Homo sapiens: one gene and its partner. The protein of the gene in region 2 purifies or fractionates together with the protein of the main gene of each other region. This does not show direct contact. Each region holds a gene or a part of one and is shown on either strand. Other genes may lie near its edges.

Evidence for each region. The genes of interacting proteins can lie anywhere in the genome.
Region 1: the proteins of ANKLE2 (region 2) and PPP2R2A purify together in Homo sapiens (pull-down; one study listed by IntAct). This does not show direct contact.

Annotation. Positions count from the first base shown.
Region 1 is NC_000008.11:26,357,507-26,361,337, forward strand, and holds part of PPP2R2A (serine/threonine-protein phosphatase 2A 55 kDa regulatory subunit B alpha isoform), read left to right. Parts: intron 1-2,662; coding exon 2,663-2,775; intron 2,776-3,467; coding exon 3,468-3,645; intron 3,646-3,831. UniProt on the Homo sapiens protein: Substrate-recognition subunit of protein phosphatase 2A (PP2A) that plays a key role in cell cycle by controlling mitosis entry and exit. Involved in chromosome clustering during late mitosis by mediating dephosphorylation of MKI67.
Region 2 is NC_000012.12:132,750,699-132,756,037, reverse strand, and holds part of ANKLE2 (ankyrin repeat and LEM domain-containing protein 2), read left to right. Parts: intron 1-904; coding exon 905-1,363; intron 1,364-5,188; coding exon 5,189-5,339. UniProt on the Homo sapiens protein: Involved in mitotic nuclear envelope reassembly by promoting dephosphorylation of BAF/BANF1 during mitotic exit.

The DNA.
Region 1 (3,831 bases), on a different chromosome or scaffold from region 2:
CATTTTAATTCTCTTTCTCTTTAATCTTCTTTTGCTCCTCTGAATTCTCATTAATTCCTCTACATTGCAGAAAACATGAAACTGACCTGTCAACCATGAGTGTTACATATATGAATAATGTAAAGTTCACTCATAAATAGGGTGTGTCTTAACAACTTCTTGATAAGTTTTTTAGGGTCTTACATAAAGCTGCATTCCCACAAAGGAAACGGCAGCGTGGTTTTCCCTGCTCATACCTCTCATACCTTCTGCTTGTGGTGAGAGGAACTCTGTTCTTCTGCAGTTTCTCCAATGCTTTAGTTATTAGTGTTGATAATTCAGGGGAACACCACAGTGTGGTCGTTTTGGAAGGAACAGATCTTGAGAATCTAATAACGTCTCCACTGAAAACTGTGTTTTTACATAATCTCACATACAGTTTTATGGAGTTTGATTATTCTCACATACTTTGTCTTATGGGCCAAAAACTCCAGGTAATAAAATATCACTGCTGTAGAACATAAGGATTCTGATTTTTTAAAAATTTATGTCATATTTATTAACATACTGATTTATTTCCTGCCTGCCTTGTCCCCACCTTACTGAAAAATGTATCCTAATTCATATGTGTCCTGTGTTTGTGTTAAGGAAAAAACATTTTTTAAAGAGCTTTCTTCCTGTAAACACTATTAGGCACCACAAACTAATTTTATCTCATCTGAAAGTTTCATAAATACATTGTGGTTTCTTTATTTGGATCTTTAATAAGGAGGATGGATTTAAACAGGCCACAAGACAACTGGACCAGGGGGCGGGGGTGTTGTCATCCTCATCACAAATACTTTGCAAGTATTTAGAACAAATACTTCTCAGAATACAGATTTAGGCTAGGCTCATATCTATCTATAAATCATATACATATATAAACTAAATAACACATAGAAAATCTGTATGACTGAACTACAAGAAAATTATAAGCAAGGTCACATAGGGCTTAGAAGAAATAATAGATTACAGATGATTAAAGTTAGCAGTTTTTCTCTGTTTACACTTCATCATTGGGAAGGGCATCCTTAGGGGCAACTATCATTCTTCTGTACGATACAGAGACTGCCAGGCTAGAGTCACTGGCATCTCTCTGAGTTGTTTCTGTTTTTATAAAATGGCTTTATATACTGTTATAAACAATTTTGTTACACCATTTTGCTTATGAAAGATCGTTAGGAATGTATGCTTTTCTATAAGAAAAACTGTTATACAATTGTAACAGTTTTAAATCAACATGCATGAGCCTATAGTGATACAAATAAACAATTGAATGGATACATGGAGAGCAGGGATGCTTCCTGCAGGAGAATTCTAAATAAGACGTGGATACATACTCTTCCCTACAGGGAGTATAACTTATTTCTCCCTTTAAGTACAGGCTGGATTTAGTGACTCACTTCCAAAGAACAGAATATGGCAAGGGTGAAAGAGTCATTGTATAGTGGAGAAGCCTGGCAAACATTGTCTTAACCAAATGACCCAAGTTAACGCCACCAGCTGTAAGTCATGTTGATACCATGTATCCCTTTGAACAATGCTGTGAGAAGTCACTTCATCTCTCTGTTCTGTTCCTAAAAACCCATGGTCCCAGTCTGATCATGAGGAAAGAGCAAGCAAATCCAGTTGAGGGATATTCTACAAAGTACCTCACCACCACTACTCAAAACTGTCAAGATCAAGAAAAATAAGGAGAGCCTGAGAAACTTAAAGGCAGAGAGACTAAGGAAACTTGATGACTAAATGCAGTGTTGTTTGAATTCTGGAGCAGAAAAGGAATGTTAGTGGAAAACCTGGTTAAATCTCCAAATGCAGTCTGTAGTTAATAGTAATATACAAAGTCGACGTCTTAGTTTTGACACACGTACCATGGTTGCGTAAGATGTTGACAGAAGAAACTGGGTAAAGGATATATGGAACACTGCAATTCTTGTAACTTTCTGTAAATCTAAACTTAATTGTAAAACAAAAGTTTGTTTTTAAACAGATGCCATTTTATATATCCTTGATACCTAGGAATTTGGTTTCTTCTTGAAGGACTTGGGGATGTATGCTTTTAATCAGTTTTCTTCAGGCCCTGTTTCCTACTTGTGAACCCTGATACAAGAAGGGGAAAGGTTTTAAAAAGGAGGCATCCAGTCCTATGGAGGCCTCTGTGGAATCTTTGATAGGCTCTGCTAAGAAGTGGGAGCAAGGGAGAGCAGCTTTACTATTTTGATTCTACATAATAGGCAGTCTTAATCAACTTCATTGTTCCCTTTAAATTTTTTAAAATTCAGTACTGAACATGTATATGTTTACATGTAGGTACAGACATATATGTGTTTGCATACACCACACATGCATATCAAGTTTTTCCCTCTAGCTTTAATTACTTTTAAGGGACAGGGATAGAGACCTGTCTGTGACTTGATTTGACTATCACATGGAATTTATGAGTGCCACCAATCTTTGCACTTTATTTCCATGTGTGTATGTTATTCAGCTGATAATAGGAAATTTTTTAGTAAGTTCAGATTAGGGTTTTTTTTTTTTTCGTGGAATCCTTTTACGTGAAATGTGAAATAGCATATTTTAAATGCCTTAAAATGTTTTTCTTCTTCAGTATTTTAAGGACTTTTCTTTATTTTCTTCCCAGATAAAACAATAAAATTATGGAAAATCAGTGAAAGGGACAAAAGACCAGAAGGGTATAACTTGAAAGAGGAGGATGGAAGGTATAGAGATCCTACTACAGTTACTACACTACGAGTAAGTACATAAGAAAAAAATGTCACAGATAGTGCTTGTATTCATATTATATAGCCCAAATCCTGAGCAGAGCTTGAATAGGAATAATTACAGTCTATCTCCCCTTTCCCAGTAATTCTGTAATCAGGTAGGACATTGAGTAACTCATTTAAACATAGAAACTGACCTACATAGAGGTCTCACTTTGGCCAGGGACAGAAGCAGGACTCAAGCACAAGACAGTATTTCACGCCATCAGACTTCATCTCTGGTTTGTCATGTTAGCTATCACAAGGTCAAGTTTCAAGATAAATTTTCTTTGGAAATCAAAAAAGTAGATACAGATCAAATCTTCTAGTTGTAGCTAAAAAATACCAAGAATTAGATGTTATGGGTTAATTTTCTTTTTAGCCTCTTTAATCTGAACCATAAACATTTATTAGCTTGGCATGTCTTTCAAGCAAAATATTGAAACTAAGAACTGCAAATTCTAATAGTATTGCAACCAGTAAAAGAAGATATATTATCCACATTGTTCATTTTTTCTTCAGCACTCGAAAGGATCAACATCAGTTGCTTTTTAAAACTAAATCTATGTAATATTGTTCTATTTTATGTTCTCAAAAACTGAAATAATGAAGTTTTCTGAATCTTAATTGCTATTTGAAACTGAGCCTTTTGTAATTTCTGTTTTTCATGTGTCTTATTGACAGGTGCCAGTCTTTAGGCCTATGGATCTAATGGTTGAGGCCAGTCCACGAAGAATATTTGCCAATGCTCATACATATCACATCAACTCAATTTCTATTAATAGTGATTATGAAACATATTTATCTGCAGATGATTTGCGGATTAATCTTTGGCATCTGGAAATTACAGACAGGAGTTTTAGTATCCATTTGGTTTTCTTTGGTGTTTGGTGAAGAAGGCATGTTGTGCCCATATTAGATTTATTTCATCTCTCCTAATGAATTTGGTTGCTTTTTATAGTCTGTGTACATATATGTATGGCACCTTATTTTTTTCTTTGTAGATGAGTAATGAAATACTGGAAAAAGTTATTTGCTAAACATAAAG
Region 2 (5,339 bases):
CCCCGTCTCTACTAAAAGTACAAAATTAGCTGGGCGTGGTGGTGCACGCCTGTAATCCCAGCTACTCGGGAGGCTTGAGGCAGGAGAACCGCTTGAACCCAGGAGGCAGAGGTTGCAGTGAGCTGAGATCGCACCACTGCACTCCAGCCTGCCTGGTGACAGAGCGAGACTCCGTCTCAAAAAGAAAAAAGGCTCACGCCTGTAATCCAAACACTTTGGGAGGCCAAGGCAGGTGGATCACCTGAGGTCGGGAGTGCAAGACCAACCTGGCCAACATGGTGAAACCCCGTCTCTCCTAAAAATACAAAAATTAGCTAGGTGTGATTCCAGGCGCCTGTAGTCCCAGCTACTTGGGAGGCTGAGGCTGGAGAATCACTTGAACTCAGGAGGTAGAGGTTGCAGTGAGCTGCGATAGCACCACTGCACTCCAGCCTGTGCGACAGAGGGAGACACCATCTCGAAAAAAAAAAGAAAAATTCTTTTTTTTTTTTTGAGCTGGAGTTTCGCTCTTGTTGTCTAAGCTGGAGTGCAGGGGTGTGATCTCGGCTAATTGCAGCCTCCGCCTCCTGGGTTCAAGCGATTCTCCAGCCTCAGCCTCCCAAGTAGCTGGGATTACAGGCATCCGCCACCACACCCGGCTAATTTTTTGTATTTTCAGTAGAGACGTGGTTTCACCATGTTGGCCGGGCTGGTCTCGAACTCCTGACCTCAGATGATCCGCCCGCCTCAGCCTCCCAAAATGCTGGGATTACAGGCGTGAGCCACCGCGTCCAGCCAAGAAAAAAAGTTTTTAATGAAAGAAACAGAAACTGATGCCATTATATAATGAACCCTAGTACCCATCACCCAGCTTCAGCAGGTGTTAGTATTTTGTGACTCTTTGATTTTTTTGTCTTGGGCCTAGGTGAAATGACAATGGATGCTCTGTTGGCTCGATTGAAACTTCTGAATCCAGATGACCTTAGAGAAGAAATCGTCAAAGCCGGATTGAAATGTGGACCCATTACATCAACTACAAGGTTCATTTTTGAGAAAAAATTGGCTCAGGCTTTACTGGAGCAAGGAGGAAGGCTGTCTTCTTTCTACCACCATGAGGCAGGTGTCACAGCTCTCAGCCAGGACCCACAAAGGATTTTGAAGCCAGCTGAAGGGAACCCAACTGATCAGGCTGGTTTTTCTGAAGACAGAGATTTTGGTTACAGTGTGGGCCTGAATCCTCCAGAGGAGGAAGCTGTGACATCCAAGACCTGCTCGGTGCCCCCTAGTGACACCGACACCTACAGAGCTGGAGCGACTGCGTCTAAGGAGCCGCCCCTGTACTATGGGGTGTGTCCAGTGTATGAGGACGTCCCAGCGAGAAATGGTAATGGGACCGTGTGTAGGATTTCCTCACACAGATAGCACATACGCGGAGGGGCGGGATGACGTCTGAAAATGGAAAACTACAGATTAAGAAGGAAAAAATCCAATCCCCTCCATCTCATCACCCCAGTTAACCATTGTTAACATTTTTATGTAGAACTTTTCTGAAATATTTGTGAATTTAACATGAGAACTGTTAAAATTTGTGAGGTAAATTGGATTCTATGAGATATGCTGGACTGAGATATTAATATTAACTGGCTGCTGCTGTTGGTTAGGAACTTTGTTGATTAGTCATCTCCGCCTTTTTAAAATGCAGTGTAACCTGCACATCTTTTATGTTAATGAATGCAAATGGCCAATGAGTGTATAAATACTTTTCAGCATCAAAGATTTGTGGTTTTATTTTGTTTTTATTTATTTATTTATTTTTTGAGACAAAGTCTCACTCTGTTGCCCAGGCCAGAGTGCAGTGGCGTGATCTCAGCTCACTGCAACCTCTCCCCTCCCAGTTTAAGCGATTCTCCTGCCTCAGCCTCCTGAGTAGCTGGGATTACAGGCGCCTGCCACCGCGCCTGGCTAATTTTTTGTATTTTTAGTAGAGACGGGGTTTCACCATCTTGGCCAGGCTGGTCTTGAACTCCTGACCTCATGATCCACCTGCCTTGGCCTCCCAAAGTGCTGAGATTACAGGCTTGAGCCACCGCGCCTGGCCATTTTATTTTTTTAATTTATTCATTCATCTGAAACAGGGTGTTACTCTGCCACCTAGGCTGCATTGCAGTGGTGCAGTCACAGCTCACTGCAGCCTCAACCTTTCTGGCTCAGGTGATCCTCCCACCTCAGCCGCTTGAGTAGCTGGGACCACAGGCATACGCCACCACGCACAGCTAATTTTTATGGTTTTTTTTTGTTTTGTTTTGTTTTGTTTTTTTGAGACAGAGTCTCGCACTGTCACCTGGGCTGGAGTGCAGTGGTGCGATCTCAGCTCACTGTAACCTCAGCCTCCTGAGTAGCTGGGAACTACAGGCGCCCGCCACCATACCCAGCTAATTTTTTATTTTTTGTATTTTTAGTAGAGACAAGGTTTCGCGATTTTGGCCAAGCTGGTCTCGAACCCCTGACGTCGTGATCTGCCCACCTCGGCCTCCCAAAGTTCTGGGATTACAGGTGTGAGCCATCACGCCCAGCCAATTTTTGTATTTTTTATAGAGGCGGGGTTTCGCCACGTTGCCCACGCTTCTCTCGAACTGCCCTCAAGCGATCCACCCACCTTGGTCTCCCAAAGTGCTAAGATTACAGGCACACACCAGCACGCCTAGCTAATTGGTTGTTTTTGGTGGTTTTTTTTTTTGAGACTGGGGTCTCTCTCTCACCCAGGTTGGGGTGTAGTGATGCAATCTCAACAACTCACTGCAATGTCTGCCTACCAGGCTCAAGGAGTCCTCCCACCTCAGCCTCCGGAGTAGCTTGGGATCGCTGGGATCACGGGCACGTGCCAGTACGCGCCAGTTTTTTTGTATTCTTGGTAGAGACAATGTTTCCCCATGTTGCCCAGGCTGGTCTCCCAACTCCTGGGCTCAAGTGATCTGCCAGGCTCAGCCTCCCGAAGTGCTGGGATTACAGGCGTGAGCCACCTCGCCTGGCCACACCTAGGTAATTAAATTTTTTTTTTTTTTTTTAAGAGACTGGGTCTCGCTTTATTGCTTAGTCTGGTCTTGAACTCCTGGCTTCAAGCAGTCCTCCCACCTGAGCCTCCCAAAGTGCTGAGATTACAGGTGTGAGCCACTGTGCCCAGCCCAAGAATTGTAATTTTAAAGAAGATTTAGCATTGGAAAAAAGAAATGAGAACTCAGTATTAATTGGGATGCCAGAAATTGCACACTGTTATGAGTATTGTTATTACTGTGATACCATTTGTGGTGACGCCTATGAGTACATAATTGGTTAAACACTATGAATAGAATGGAATATTGTTCTGTAAGATCTTTTTAAAGAATACGTAGGGGCCGGGCGCGGTGGCTCACGCCTGTAATCCCAGCACTTTGGGAGGCCGAGGCAGGCAGATCACGAGGTCAGGAGATCGAGACCATCCTGGCTAACACGGTGAAGCCCCGTCTTTACTAAAAATACAGAAAATTAGCGGGGTGTGGTGGTGGGCACCTGTAGTCCCAGCTACTTAGGAGGCTGAGGTTGCAGTGAGCTGAGATTGTGCCACTGCATTCCAGCCTGAGCGACAGAGCTAGATTCCATCTCAAAAAAAAGAAAGTAACACTGGGAAATGATCATGGTGCAGTTTTTATTTTTATTATTTATTTATTTATTTACTTATTATTTGAGACAGAGTCCCGGTCTGTCGCCAGGCCGGAGTGCAGTGGTGCGATCTTGGCTCACTCCAACCTCTGCCTTTTGGGTTCCAGTGATTTTCCTGCTGCAGCCTCCCGAGTAGCTAGTACTACAGGGGTGTGCCACCACGCCCGGCTAATTTTATATTTTTAGTAGAGACAGGGTTTCTCCACGTTGGTCAGGCTGGTCTCAAACTCTCAACGTCAGGTGATCCACCTGCCTCAGCCTCCCAAAGTGCTGGGATTACAGGCGTGAGCCACCGTGCCCGAACTATGGCTATTTTTATCCAGTAGTGGACAGTAACCATTCGTCTGTTACATTGTTCATAAATTTTTGTCTCCTGGCCAGTAGTGTATATCTTATGTATTTACGATAGTCTCATACAAAACTTAATTGTGATAGTTCCACTACAGAGCTTTAATATTTTTATATAATCAGGATTATCTTGTTTTGAATGGTTTCTTGGCATGTTTAAAAAGGCATTCCCAGCCGGGTACAGTGGCTCATGCCTGTAATCCCAGCACTTTGGGAGGCTGAGGTGGGCAGGTCACCTAAGGTCAGGAGTTCAAGACTAGCCTGGCCAACATGGTGAAACCCCGTCTCTACTAAAAATACAACAATTAGCCAGGCATGGTGGCCGGTGCCTATAATCCCAGCTACACGGGAGGCTGAGACGGGAGAATCGCTTGGACCTGGGAGATGATGGTCGCAGTGAGCCAAGATCACACCACTGCACTCCAGCCTCGGCAGCTGAGTGAGACTCCATGTCAAAAAAAAACAGCCATTCCCGGCTGGGCGCCGTGGCTGACACCTGTAATCCCAGCACTCTGGGAGGCCGAGGCGGACAGATCACCTGAGGTCAGGAGTTTGAGACCAGCCTGGCCAACATGATGAAACCCCGTCTCTACTAAAAATACAAAAAATTAGGCATGGTGGCGGATGCCCATAATCCCAGCTACTCGGGAGGCTGAGGCGGGAGAATCGCTTGAACCTGGGAGGCAGAGGTTGCAAGAGCCAAGATCGTGCCACTGCACTTGAGCTTGAGCGACAGAGCGAGACTCCGTCTCCAAAAAAAAAAATAAAGTAAAAAATAAAAAGGCGTTCCCTGTTCAAAATTGTGTTTAAAATTCTCTTATGTTCTTGGCTGACATAATTATAGTTTTTTTTTTTAATTTGCCTTTTAATAATTTTTATTTAGATCTTTATATGAAATTTAGTTTTTAGGATAGAATCTTGGCATATAGAATTACATATATGAACATAATATATATCATGTTACATGCATATATGCACACTGTCGAGCTTGTTAATTGTTCTATTTTGGCTAGCTTAGGCCCTTTTTCTTCAGGATTAAAGATCTGAACTAAGCCAGGCGACTGGGTAGCAGATGTGGAAGCTGATGGTTAGGCCCAGGGCATGGCCAGGTGACAGCTCTCCAGTCACTCTTCTCTGATTTTCATTTGTTACTTTTCTTACCCAGAAAGGATCTATGTTTATGAAAATAAAAAGGAAGCATTGCAAGCTGTCAAGATGATCAAAGGGTCCCGATTTAAAGCTTTTTCTACCAGAGAAGACGCTGAGAAATTTGCTAGAGGAATTTGTGATTATTTCCCTTCTCCAAGCAAAACGTC